4 linked regions of the Homo sapiens genome follow. The protein of the gene in region 2 purifies or fractionates together with the protein of the main gene of each other region. This does not show direct contact. Each region holds a gene or a part of one and is shown on either strand. Other genes may lie near its edges.

What was found.
Region 1: the proteins of SLC17A5 (region 2) and GFPT1 purify together in Homo sapiens (affinity purification with mass spectrometry; one large-scale study listed by BioGRID and IntAct). This does not show direct contact.
Region 3: the proteins of SLC17A5 (region 2) and ATP8A1 purify together in Homo sapiens (affinity purification with mass spectrometry; one large-scale study listed by BioGRID and IntAct). This does not show direct contact.
Region 4: the proteins of SLC17A5 (region 2) and ACADSB purify together in Homo sapiens (affinity purification with mass spectrometry; one large-scale study listed by BioGRID and IntAct). This does not show direct contact.

Annotation. Positions count from the first base shown.
Region 1 is NC_000002.12:69,338,728-69,342,416, forward strand, and holds part of GFPT1 (glutamine--fructose-6-phosphate aminotransferase [isomerizing] 1), read right to left. Parts: intron 3,523-3,689; coding exon 3,425-3,522; intron 1-3,424.
Region 2 is NC_000006.12:73,651,193-73,655,437, forward strand, and holds the start of SLC17A5 (sialin), read right to left. Parts: upstream 2,801-4,245; 5' UTR 2,695-2,800; coding exon 2,601-2,694; intron 1-2,600. UniProt on the Homo sapiens protein: Multifunctional anion transporter that operates via two distinct transport mechanisms, namely proton-coupled anion cotransport and membrane potential-dependent anion transport.
Region 3 is NC_000004.12:42,577,106-42,580,794, forward strand, and holds part of ATP8A1 (phospholipid-transporting ATPase IA), read right to left. Parts: intron 2,874-3,689; coding exon 2,708-2,873; intron 1,283-2,707; coding exon 1,155-1,282; intron 1-1,154. UniProt on the Homo sapiens protein: Catalytic component of a P4-ATPase flippase complex which catalyzes the hydrolysis of ATP coupled to the transport of aminophospholipids from the outer to the inner leaflet of various membranes and ensures the maintenance of asymmetric distribution of phospholipids.
Region 4 is NC_000010.11:123,053,817-123,056,397, reverse strand, and holds part of ACADSB (short/branched chain specific acyl-CoA dehydrogenase, mitochondrial isoform 1 precursor), read right to left. Parts: 3' UTR 1-2,581. UniProt on the Homo sapiens protein: Short and branched chain specific acyl-CoA dehydrogenase that catalyzes the removal of one hydrogen from C-2 and C-3 of the fatty acyl-CoA thioester, resulting in the formation of trans-2-enoyl-CoA.

The DNA of each region.
Region 1 (3,689 bases), on a different chromosome or scaffold from region 2:
ATCCTACCACTTGAGATAAGCATGGCTAACATTTTACTATCAGTCTCTTTAGACAACTATCTATGTATACATTCCTTTTTTTTTTTTTTTTGAGACGGAGTCTCGCTCTGTCGCCAGGCTGGAGTGCAGTGGTGCCATCTCGGCTCACCGTAACCTCCGCCTCCCGGGTTCAAGCAATTCTCCTGCCTCAGCCTCCTGAGTAGCTGGGACTATAGGCGTGCGCCACCATGCCCAGCTTAGTAGAGATGGGGTTTCACCATGTTGGCCAGGATGGTCTCAATCTCCTGACCTCATGATCTGCTCGCCTCAGCCTCCCAAAGTGCTGGGATTACAGGCATGAGCCACTGCGCCTGGACACATACATTCTTATAAGGAAACATACCCACACATATAAAACGTTTTGAGAAGTGGAAAGAGCATGGTTCTGAGTCAGCTTGTGTGTTATCTCTAACCTCCCAATTCCTAATCTTTAAAATGAAAATTCATGTAATACCCATGTTAGGGAGGGGTTTCAAATCAGGTAACAGATGTACAAATATATAGAGAAAAATTAAACACTTTAAAAGTACAACGTATTCATAAATATGACCATTTCCCAAAAGAAGTCAATATATTTTAGAAATCTTGTTTAACAGGGCTCACTATTTTCAACTTTTGTGGCATGGGGCAGGGGGAATGAAGTAGGGAGCAGTATGCCTCTGTGCAAAACGTAGTTTAACCTTCATTTCAGTAAATTTCCATTCTAATTATTTTTACACTAAACATCGGAAAATCAAAAACAGAAAAATTATCTTTTAGGCAGCAAAAACTTTAAGCTCAACCAATGTATACATTTAGTGTTGCTTTAATTCTAACTGTGGAGCTCACCTAACCTGACAGCCTTTCACCAGCCTCTTCAGGCAAGTGGCCCTCCCCATCTCTCACCCATCTCAGCTTTCCTCCTTCTCAGCAATAAAGAACTTAAAGGTGCCCTTATTTCATAGCCCTTAACTTTTGCTTGCCCACAAATTTGAACAGAATCGTTTTACTTGGTTCCCCCAAAAATATTAAATAACTTTGATTTGGCATTTTTTAACAATATTACAACATCATGTAAAGAAAATCATTGAAGATAAAATGCTCCTATTTTTTATTATTCTTTTCCATTAATATATTTTATTATACATAATTAAGTTACCGACACTAAAATGCTAAATGTTTTCCCACAAATAAATGTAAACCAAACCTTTTCACCCAGTTTATAATATAAATGTTACATTGGAATCATATTCTTCAAAATAAAAAGATGGGGAAAGAAGAGAGAAAGATAGAAATCTGGAGGCTTACCAGATATTTAAAAGTAATAAACCCCAAAAAAGTAATCTCAAGATTTATCTGTGCTAATTAATAGTTTATTATTTTAGTTGGGGCAACTTTTTTTTTTTTTTTTTTTTTTTTGGTTAAAGATGGGGTCTTGGTTTGTTGCCCAGGCTGGAGTGTAGCAGCTATTCAGAGGCATGATTCTAGGGCACTGTGGCCTCAAATTCCTGGTCTCAAGTGATCCTCCTGCCCCAGCTTCCGAGGAGCTGGAACTATAGGCACACACCACTGCACCCAGCTGCGAACAACTTTTTATAAATACACAAAATGACATATTTCCATCACAATAGAGTAACTTAATGCTATAAATTCCACTGAATGCCACTACAAAACCTAGAGAAAATTAAAATTTTGAAAAGCATATTAAGTAGGCTATACTTAAATCATTTATGCCTAGTGTTCCATCACTGGAACGTTAAGCATGTGGGAGTTATTTATATCCTACTGCTCAAGGTCAGCACCAAGGTCTGATGATTTTTCACAAAAAAATTTTGCAACCTCTGGCATAAATGAGTTAAGAATGATTAGAGTGTAGTCAGTTATTCAGGATATAGATACTAAAAAAAAAACATGTAAATGTGTCATGAAACAACAACAAAAATGTAAAACAGGATAAAATAAATGGTACTATTTTGTCTGATAAACCACAGGGGGATTTCTAATGTTTGTTTACTACAGTAGTCTTGGCATCCACAAAACAACAAAAAATCTTACATTAGAGAATTCTAACAGAGTATATAATTTCTGCCCCCAAATTGTCTTAGCGTTAGATGAAGCGTTTAATCAAATTTTCTATTTCTGAATACAGGGCTCATTCAGTAATAGATCTAAGCCACCACTAACGTGTTTACATCTTTCTTCTTCCCGTGTTCAAAATTTTTTTTTTTTTTTGAGACAGGGCCTGGTTTTGTCGCCCAGGTTGGAGTTCAGCGGTGCAATCTAGGCTCACTGCAGCCTCACCTTCTGGACTCAAGCGATCCTCCTGCCTCAGCCTCCCAAGTAGCTAGGACTACAGGGAGTTGCCACCACACCCCGATAATTTTTTTTTTTTGGTAGAGACGGGGTCTCGCTATGTTGCCCAGGCTCAAACTCCTAGGGTCAACTGATCCTCCCACTTTGCCCTCCCAAAGTGCTGGGATTACAGGTGTGAGCCACAACACCCAGACAAAACAATCACTTTTTTAGACCTCTACCCTTCAACATTACATAGACTTTCTGTTTAGGACCATATAATTTTGGGGGAGGAGGGGAGGAGGTATTTGGTGTAGTCTTAGAAAAGAGCAAAGCTTGTTGAGATGCAAGGGCAGGTGACCAGATAGTTTCACTCACTGCTTAAATAAATGGCTCCTAATAAATATTTATGCCTCAGCAAATAAATAAGTTATGTCAGGAACTTTGGAAGTCAATCCTAAAAGCAGAAATTGAATGTAAAGGTCTTCTGTTCATAACAGTTGACATCAGCAACACATAAACTGTCTCTTTCTAAGGAAACTACGTGGGCAAATATTGGTCTTTTATTGGAATAAAAGACCCTCATACACCTATGCTTCTGCACTGACAATACACATTTTTGATACTGAATTTCAGCTTCTAAAAGAACAATTTAAAGAATAAAATCTGATTTAAAAAAAAAAGCAGACTACCTTTCTTTGCAGTAATGTGCCCACAAAGTAAAATTGCACTGAGGTTCACACATGATGCAGGCCATCTGTCTAGGGCAAGTGAACAATGCTAAGCAAAACCCAACGATGGCTCTTACACATGTAGGCAAGCTCCCTAGGCTACAAGTCTAGGACAGTACACAAACTCTCCCCCTCTTGGCCTTTCATGAAGTCCGTTGCAGGAGGTCTATCTGTATATCTAGGGACCTTTTCTACAGATCTTCCATGGATAAATAATTCCAAGCAGCTGGTAAATTTCTCCCCTTACCTTCTTTTTTTATCACAAAAGGGAAAAGATAACACATTAACAAAACATAGTTTTACACAGTATGTTATTAGACTACTACTTGGTCTACAGATATTCTCTAATATTCAACATAATTAAAATTTTAAAAAGCACTTACTGCTACACCAGCATGGTAACTTGTTCCACAAGCAATAAGAATCAAACGCCGGCATCTCTGGATCTCCTTTATGTGATCCTTCAAACCACCCAAATTCACTGAAATAAAAGTTTGTGTACATAATTATTTAGCAAAGAACCATGTGAACTAGGCAATCGCATTTTGTGAGTATCCACTGCCAATATGAGGAAGAATACTGCTGTTTTAAAGAATTAATATTCCTCTTGGAAAGCACAGTTCTCTGTAATTTTGAAAAGTAAATTAA
Region 2 (4,245 bases):
GCTCAGGCCTGTAATCCCAGCACTTTGGGAGGCCAAGGCGGGTGGATCACCTGAGGTCAGAAGTTAGAGACCAGCCTTGCCAACATGGTGAAACTCCGTCTCTACTAAAAATACAAAAATTAGCTGGGTGTGGTGGCGTAGGCCTGTAATCCCAGCTACTCGGGAGGCTGAGGCAGGAGAATCACTTGAACCGGGGAGGCTGAGGCTGCAGTGAGCCGAGATCGCACCACTGCACTCCAGCCTGGGCGACAGAGCAAAACTCCGTCTCAAAAAAAAAAAAAAAAAAAAAAAATCAGGACATAATTGAGGAAATATGAACACTGAGTATTTTGTAAGTATTATTATTATTTTATTATTATTATTTTTTGAGACGAAGTCTTGCTCTTGTCACCCAGGCTGGAGTGCAGGGGCGTGATCTCGGCTCACTGCAAGCTCCGCCTCCCAGGTTCACGCCATTCTCCTGCCTCAGCCTCCCGAATAGCTGGGACTACAGGCACCCGCCACCACACCCGGCTAATTTTTTGTATTTTTAGTAGGGACGGCGTTTCAGGCGTTTCACCTTGTTAGCCGGGATGGTCTCGGTCTGCTGACCTCAGGTGATCCGCCCGCCTCGGCCTCCCAAAGTGAGTAAGCATTATTTTTATTTGCTGTGATAATAGTACTGTAGTTATGTTAAAAAGAGTCCTTATCTTTTAGAGGTAAATAATTGAAATATTTACATATGAAATGACATGGTATCTGGGATTTGCTTCAAAATACACAGTATGTATGAGCATAAGGCAAGACTGGCCATGAATTGATAACTTTAATCTGGGTGCTGGTTACATGGGGGCTCATTATATACTTCTCTTAATTGCCATATATGCTCCTTCTCTATAAAACTTATCATATTCTAAATAGCAAAAACAGTATGTTACTATTATTTCCACTTCACTTGCTCTCCAGTGGGTATGTAAAGAGGGAAAATAAAAAAGGAAATGGTTGTAACAAACGTAGCCACCTAAAGCCAGGAAGGACAGGGCCAGTACCATAAGATCCATACACTCAACACATGAATCAAGTAGGGATTGTTTTTAAAAGGGATGCTATAAGCTACTTTTTTAAAAATCAACTTTATTGAAGTATAATTTACGTGATAAATGTATACATTTGTCCATCTCAATCTTTATTGAGATGTATAACTTTTCTATCCACATCTCTGCTAACATTTGGTATTATCAGCCTTTTGGATTTTAGCTATTCTAGTGGGTGTATAGTGCCTCGTTGTAATTTTAATCTGCATTTTCCTGAGAATAATGTTTAACATTTGTGCTAAATTTTGATTATACATATACATATTTTTCAATTGTAACAATGTAATAATCTCTGGCAAATATCTTTATTATAACTTTTATTTCTGTATTTCTATATTATTTTATGAGGAATATTATACAATTTGAACACTACAAGCCACAGAAAATGATCAGTTTATGGAACTAAGTCCGACTTCCAGGTAAAACGTAACTATGGTATGGTATTTACAGTTTGTGTTGACTAAAATAAGCTCCCGGCTGCCAGATGGAGCTATAAGGTTGCCACCTCTACTGCCACCATCTGGTAACATTAAAAACAAATAAAAATATAGAAACTATACAATTCTGGGTTAGCCAAAGTCAAATTTCCAACACAACTCTTTCTCACGCACAGATCTTTGAAACTATAGAATGCATTCAAACTGATTTGTTCTTTAGTTTTCGTTACTTTTAAATAAACTATATTACAAAAGTGTCAAATAGCAAAATATTTTAATTTTCTCAAATTCAGGGAAGATGCTTTATGACGTACCTGCTTTTCGATTTGTTCCAAGACCTTTGGCAAATTACTTTAGAACTCCATAGGTATCTTGAGGATAACTGAACCTTTTCCTAACTTAAATCATAGACTGCCAGACGGAAAAAAAATGTCCTCGATGTTTTTAGTCTCTTACTGCACAATGTCAAGATATCAGCTGGGTTATACAATAGTTGCCCTCTGCATACTCACAAATGTTAACTCCAGTCCTTTTTTGTCTTCCCTCCCCGCCTAAGAAGCTACCAGGTCACATGCTGGCGGATACGCAGTGGCGGAAACCTAGCGGTGACAGGGAAGGACAGCCCTCTGCCTACTGATCTGCAGGTTTCTCCTCCAGTTTGCTCTTACACCGGGGTCCTCCGCTCGGACCTTAGCCCATTCATTTGATGATTCTCTCCCAGTTCGTTCTTCCACTGGGTCCCTTGCTCAGCACTACCCAAAATAACCACCAGCTCAGCGCCGGCTGCACCGCCGCTCCCCCGCCCCCGCCCCCGCCCCCGCCCCCGCCCGGTGGGGCTGCACCTGCCGAGGCCCCGGCTCGGCTCCGCGATCACGGTCGCGGCCCCCGGGGTTCCCGAGGGGCTTCTGCGCACCGAGGCAGGCGGGACTGAGCGGCACTCTGAACGGGCTCCCCTCTTAATGTCCCCTCGCGCCTGAGCAGCTCCGGTCCCGCCGGCGCAGGGTGCGGGTACCCGGGCCATGCCGGCCCAGAGACCGCCGCCCCCGGTACCGCTGCCCACTCGAAGCCCCTGGACGACCCCGCCGCTTACCGGCTTCGGCCCGTGGGGCGCCCGGTAGAAGAGGCGTGCGGTCCGTGCTCTCCTCGCCATCGTTCCGGGCCAGGTCTCGAACCGGAGACCTCATGACGCCTACGTGAGCAGGTGTACTCGCCACCTGGCAGAGAAGGGAGCGCCGGCCCGACAGCCCGAAGCCCCCGGGCCGAGCTGGCTGGACCGGGCGGGGCGGGGGCGATGACACCGCCCCGCGGCCACGTCTAGTCCCCGCGGTCCCGCCCAGAGGCGGCCGCGCCGACTCCGCCCCCGCCGCCATCTTAGGTGTGGGCAACTCTGGCTTGGGTTGGACTAGGGAAGCGGAGTTCTGGGAGTTCTCGTAGGATTGGCGCAAAGTGAGCCCGCTCCGCCCGCCGGTCTACGCATGCCGGGGAGCCGGTGTTCGGACGACCGTCTCCCGCTCCTGCACCCCCTTGTAAAGTGCAGGGGCCACCCTGCCCGCAGCGAGGATGAGTGGGGGCTTGCGGGCGGGCAGTGGGGACTTGAATTGCACATAATTAAGGGGAGGGCTTCGACCGAACTAGGGAAGTGGGTGGTGTGCATTTCACAACTTGACATTCGCTTGTTAGCGGTCAGTTGCCATACTGTTAGCAACCTTTGTACGATCTACCTCGTGACTGTGGCGGCATATTTACCTCGTGACTGTGGCGGCATATTGTCCCTAAAATAGCTTTTTTTTTTTTTTTTTTTTCTCCCAGGCAGGGTCTTGCTCTGTTGCCCAAGCTGGAATGCAGTGGCGCAATCGCAGCTCACTGCAACCTCCAACTCCTGGACTCAAGCGATTCTCTTCAGCTCCCCCAAGTAGCTGGGACTACAGGAGCATGCCACCACATCTGGCTAATTTTGTTTCTACTTTTTATTTTTGTAGAGGCTTGGTCTTATTATATTGCCCAAGCTGGTTTCGAACTCCTGGGCTCAAGCAATCCTCCTCGGCCTCCCAAAGTGCTGGGATTACAGGCGTGAGCCACTGCTCCTGGTCCTAAAATAGCTTTTAGGCGGAAAAACAGCAATGGAAATTTGTTGAGTCCTATGATGTTGCTGGTTTTATAGGTAAAAGTAATCAACATAGGTAGTTTCATATGGTTCGACCTATGGAATCCTCTGATGTATGTGTGCATGCTTTATCTCCACGATAGAATTTGGATAGATTGTGCTAGCATTTGCGGACTCTGAAAGTGAAACTAGGAAAACCCAGCTTGCCTTGGCAGGGCAGATCTGGATCCGCCAATAAAGGCTGTCTCTGTGGAGGTAGAAAATAAGATGTAGATGCTCTCGGAGAGTTTGGTGTAGACAGGGAAGACCCACAAGCCACTAATTCAGTAAACCAGGTTAGAAGCTTAGTGAGGTTCACGTGAGAACAAAGGGGAGGGTCCTTTACCTAGAAGGGAGGGCGAGGATTTCTGTAGGCATCCCTACCTCCAGATCAGTAAATGCTAGAAAAGTTCTCAAGTTAAAGCAGCAAATCAAGCCTTGTTTCTGAGTTACTGAATTACCATGTAGATTTTTACACTCTCTAAGGGTTGTAGAAAAATGCAATTTTCAAACTGGATTATGCAGAGTCACCTGGCAAATCCTTTTAAAATGTAGATTCAGATTCAGCAGATCTGGTGTGATGGTTAATTTT
Region 3 (3,689 bases), on a different chromosome or scaffold from region 2:
AGCATAAGCCTGCTGGGTTCATCCAATACTAAAATTATATAATTCTTTGAAAGATATTATTTTTGAAAATCAAAACAACAAAGTGATTATCTAGCTTACTTATGTGATTCTCACAATGAGTTACCCTATTATTGCTATAAGAAACTTCAATAAGTCTTACTTATATTTGTACATATCCTATTACGTAATTTTTCAGCCATATATCTCCTGCATGAAGTGAGCTACACCTGCAGCTCATTTTAGATTTCTAAATCACACTGATTTCTTACCAATGAATTAAGAGATTGACAGTTTAGGTAGATAATTCGCTACAAGAAGATAATGAGCAGTTACAAAAGTATGTCATATTTTTCGAAACCCTAATATTGTTCATATTGAAAGACTTTACAATGATTGAAAAAGAAAGAAACATCAAAAATAACACAAAGTTTCTCAAAATAAAAGAAAAATTAAATTTTCTGGCAGATTAGGCCCACAGATTTAATTTAGATAAATTCATTAATTTTAACTTTAATAAAAATAAAACTAAGACATTTAAAAACATTTAGAAAGTAGATGTCCAACATTTTTCTAATATTTAACAATATTCAAGAGAAAAATTATGAAGAAAAATTCAAGTGAAGCTAAAATTGTTTACAGTGTAGAAAATAACATGATATAACATGATAATCTGGTTGATATCAGTAAGAATTACAGTATTATTTGTATAGTGATTGATTATTTTCAAAGCTCTTTGCTATGTCAAGAGATTCCTTAGTCCATAAAACCACTGTAAGATGTAGGTAAGGCATATTATCCCTATGATTGTGTTCAAGAAAATAAGTTTCAAAATAAGTGACTTGAGAAAGTTGATACACCTAGTAAATTATAATACTAGAACCATAATTCAGACACTTAACTCCAAACTCATGGTTCTCCATCTCCCACGACCACCATAGGTTTCCTGAACTAGAGACCCATTTTCCCTACAATGTCTGGCCTGTAAACTTGTGTGATTCTGAGATGAGGAACTTTGCAACAAATTAGGTTCAAAAATCTGATACTGTGGTCAAGAAACGGTAGATATAATTAAAACCTTTTTTCTCCTGAGATATCAAAATATCCTAAGGACAAAATTATTTTGTAGGGTGATAACAATCATAATTCATATTTACCCAATTTATGAAGTATGCCTGGGTAAATTTCACAACTTCTAATGTAACCAATAAGCTGATAGGAATGAGATTGTTGAAAAGGATGATGAAGGTCAAGAAATTCAGTCCAAAATTACTAGCGCCACCATCTGTTGGGAGAGGCAGGAAGAACGTCATTTACAGTTTTATATTTTATTTGCATTGACCCCAAATTAGCATAATACAAGTTTTCCATACTACGCAGCTTATTTGATAATTTGGGAGGAACACTTTGCTGATAATCTATCCTAATTCTCAAGTACATCCTTCAAGATAGAATTGCATTGTGTTCAATATGTTGTTAATCCAGGTAAGAGCTGTATAAAAGTACTAAGACAGTGAAAGGACTGTCAAATATTGCAAACCCTCTTCCAAACACAAAGTTTAGAGACATCAGGGATAGCACTGAGGGTTTATAAATATAAAATCTCAATTGGGTAGAATCACTTTTATATAAATTCTTAAGAGTATTTCCAATTTAAAGCATACTTTAAAAGCAAACAAGACAGCAGCAGCAAAAACAATCCAAACTATATGAGTAATATTCAGTCCTAGGTAAATTATTCTCCTAGGTACATTATACTCTTCTTCCTCAAAATGAAAATAAAACTGCTATACCAGATACAATTATAAAGTATACAAAGAAACAGACTGATGGTAGTAACAGTTCTGATACTGAAATAATAAATCAGTAACTATAAAAACAACTTGGAATTGCTGCAAAGATAAATCAATATAATAAAAAAAATTTAAAAATACCAGTTTTTGCTATGTGATTGTACTAGAATTTGCTTTCACACTTTTGGAAGTTAAGTCTTTATTGGCTAAGTACTCATGAAATGAAAATGTAAACTCATTTGACAGAAATATCCAGGGGTGGTACATTAATATCACAATAATAAAAGGATAAATGCTCTAAAGGAAAACTATTTACTAGCACCTTCTCTAAGATAACATTTAATATAGGACTTACCACATTACTGAGTTCAAATGAAAATACATTGGGTTTAAACATTTTTAAACCATATAAACCACTTTTTGGTACTTTTATTTAAATAAAATATAAACAAAGTATATTTTATTTAAGATAAAATATATTTAAATATTTATATTATTTAAATATATTTAAAATATTTTATATATTTATAAATACATACAATATATATTTAAATATATATGTTTTGTTATATCCACACATGGTCAATCTACTTTCTTTACCATATAGTTAACCACCTATGTTAAAAATATTTTTAAGGAATAGTTTTCGTTGATATATATAATAAATGACTATACTTAGTGAACATTTTATACCACTATAGAGTGCTCATTATGTTTTTAAGGATTCTGAAATTTTAGGATTCCCAAATTTTACTTACACTTGCTAGAAATCTCACTGAAAAATAAAGATCAAATGTCCAGCTATCTTGGCAACAAGGTCTTTTTAGAAACAATACGAAATAAAGTAAATCAAGATCAATTGTGAAACAAATACATGTCTTAATCTAAAAAAGTGCAGTAAGCACTTTATTGCTTACAGTTTAGATTGAGATACCAGTCTTTTCCAGAATGCCTTCGATTCCAAATGGCTGAGCCCACAGAACAGACAAGAGACATGGCAATTAAGATACAAAATAAAATCAAAATTTGTACATTTGTAATCCGTTCCACATTTGAGAGCTTAAGTGGTGGACTTGTTGAATTCTGTAAAAAGAAACAAGATGAGTAATAAAAAATGTACACCAATGATTTAGCAATCTATACTTAGTATTCTGTTGAGGATGACAAAGTCACAACTCAGTATCTAGATGTGGGTGGATACGTGAAAATTATGTGAAACCCATGACAAATGTAATAAGGTGCCAATGGTTAACCACCTTTTTTTCAAGGCCACTACACCACCCAGGCCTTTTTCTAGGAAGTAAACTATAAGAAAGAAGAGAACGAAATTACATTCCCTTTGCAAAAATAGCTTTTGCATTGTGGCAGGTAAGATGAATAATGCATTACTTGGCTATGTAAGCAAACAGGGTAGTCTAGAAACATTTAGTGTTTCCGTTCAGGAAGACAGGCAGACAAGGCAGCCCATGCTCCCGCAAACAGGCACCTGGAAATTTGAACATAGGAAGGCAACATTTAAAGGATCTCCGGCTTTCAAATTTCTGGTGGCATTTAGCAATTGTTTTACTGAACGCAGCAACAATTTAAGTAGTCCTGGCTATAAAGAATAACAGAGGCAAGTTGCCTCAGTTGTATTTGATGATTCAAATGGTTATGTAGACCTGTGCTAACCAAAAAATCCATAGAACAGAAAATTAAATGTCAGAATGAATATGAAATGAAGATTTATAGAATTTATAAAATGGCTAGTGGTGGAATCACTAACAGCAATCTCGCTTGCCTATTGATAATACCTTCATGCCTGTACAAGGTACAAAGGTATTAGCTCTGAGAGCAGATTTTCATTTAGTTTCTTAAAACTGTTTTCCACACCCATCTGACTATTGAATATTGATGGTA
Region 4 (2,581 bases), on a different chromosome or scaffold from region 2:
ATAGTAAGTCTCATGAGATCTGATGGGTTTATCAGGGGTTTCCACTTTTGCTTCTTCTTCATTTTCTCTTGCCACCACCATGTACGAAGTGCTTTTCACCTCCCGCCATGATTCTGAGGCCTCCCCGGCCATGTGGAACTGTAAGTCCAATTAAACCTCTTTTTCTTCACAATCTTGAGGAATGTCTTTATCAGCAGTGTGAAAACAGACTAATACAGTAAACTGCTAACAGTAGAGTGGGGCATTGCTGAAAAGATAGCCAAAAATATGAAAGCAAGTTTGGAACTGGGTAACAGGCAGAGGTTGGAACAGTTTGAAGGGCTCAGAAGAAGACAGGAAAATGTGGGAAAGTTTGGAACTTCCTAGATACTTGCTGAATGGCTTTGCCCAAAATGCTGATAGCAATATTGACAATAAAATTCAGGCTGAGGTGGTCTCAGATGGAGATGAAAAACTTTTTGGGAACTGGAGTAAAGGTGACTCTTGCTGTGTTTTAGCAAAGAGACTGGCAGCATCTTTCCCTTGCCTTAGAGATTTGTGGAACTTCGAACTTGAGAGAGATGATTGTGAGACGTGGAGTCAAAGGTGATCATTTTGGAGGTTTAAAATTTGACTGCCCTGCTGAATTTTGGACTTGCATGGGCCCTGTTACCCTTTTGTGTTGGCCAATTTCTCCCATTTGGAATGGCTGTATTTACCCAATACCTGTACCCCCATTGTATCTAGGAAGTAACTAGTTTACTTTTGATTTTACAGGTTCATAAGTGGAAGGGACTTGCCTTGTCTCAGATGAAACTTTGGACTGCGGACTTTTGGGTTAATGCTGAAATGAGTTAAGACTTTGGGGGACTGTTGGGAAGGCATGATTGGTTTTGAAATGTGAGGACATGAGATTTGGAGGTGCCAGGGGTAGAATGATATGGTTTGGCTGTGTCCCCACTGAAATCTCAACTTAAATGGTATCTCTCAGAATTCCCATGTGTTGTGGGAGGGACCCGGGGGAGGTAATTGAATCATGGGGGCCAGTCTTTCCTGTGCTATTCTCGTGATAGTAAGTCTCACAAGATCTGATAGGTTTATTAGGGGTTTCCACTTTTGCTTCTTTCTCATTTTCTCTTGCTGCCGCCATGTAAGAAGTGCTTTTTGCCTCCCACCATGATTCTGAGGCCTCCCCAGTCATGTGGAACTGTAAGTCCAATTAAACCTCTTTTTCTTCCTGGTCTCAGGTATGTCTTTATCAGCAGCGTGAAAACAGACTAATACAACCAGATATATATTTTATTGCATTTTGCCTGTTTATAACCTATATTGCAAAACAATAGATTCATTTTTGCCTTCCCAAATATAAAACTATTTTAATATTGAATATGCTTTTTCAAACTCTACAGCCCCCTTCTCTCCCTCATTCCTTATGAGATTTTGATACACTTCTTAATGGGCAAGAGATCTTTTTCTTGAGAATCACTGAACCAAAACCCAATTTCTGAATTATTATTCAGGATAAAGTGCAATAACCATGACTGAAGAAACAGTATTCAATTAAAATACAGAAATTGTCAACTGAAAAATAGTGCATGACAGAATATCCAACACTGTATTGAATATTTTCTGATTATTAAACCAAATTACTTAAACCTTATACTTGAAAACTAATGCACATTGGTTTTTAAAATGACCTACTGAAACCACCATAAAATGTATCTTTTATACAGGTTAATTATAGTAACAAATCATATTGCTTTACATTGTTAAAATAATATTTTCTTCAATCATATGACCTACAAAATTATACCCTTATTTTCCACTGATTCTCATATTTAAAACCAGAATTTTTAGATTTTTCTAAATAAATTTTCATCAGTTTTGACTTCGCTTGCAACTTAGAGTTGAATCTATAAAGTACTGGATAAAAATTGCCTACTATGTAACAAATATTTCCCTGATGCCACAAGATTAAGATTTAATAGGAATATAAACTATTTCTATAAGTAATATTGTACTTCAGATGCCTTTATTTTTCCAAATGATGGGATGAAACTTCTGTATACTCTGAAACTAGAATGATAATATAAATACCCAGCCAGGCACGGTGGCTCATCCCTGTAATCCCAGCACTTTGGGAGGCCAAGGTGGGCGATATCCAGAAGCCAGAAGACCAGCCTGGGCAATATGGTAAAACCCCATCTCTACTAAAAACACAAAAATGAACCAGGCATGGTGGTGCACACCTGTAGTTCCAGCTACTTGGGAGGATGAGGCATGAGAATCACTGGAACCCAGGAGGTCAAGGCTGCAGTGAGCTGAGATCGCGCCACTGCACTCTAGCCTGGGTGACAGAGTAAGACAGAGTAAAAATATATATATGTATGCGTATACAGCTTTAAAAACAGTTTTGGAAAAAAATACAGGTGCTTATTTCCCAAGTTTAAAAGTGGATCTCCTGTGCCTAAGTTAAACAGCCTGAAAAGAGAAAACCAAAAAGGCCAACACCAGGACCCTGACTAAGGGCTTCATTAAAATATTCGAATGCTGTGGAAGTTTATTCCCACGCAAGGCACTTACTCCCAACAAGACACAACCG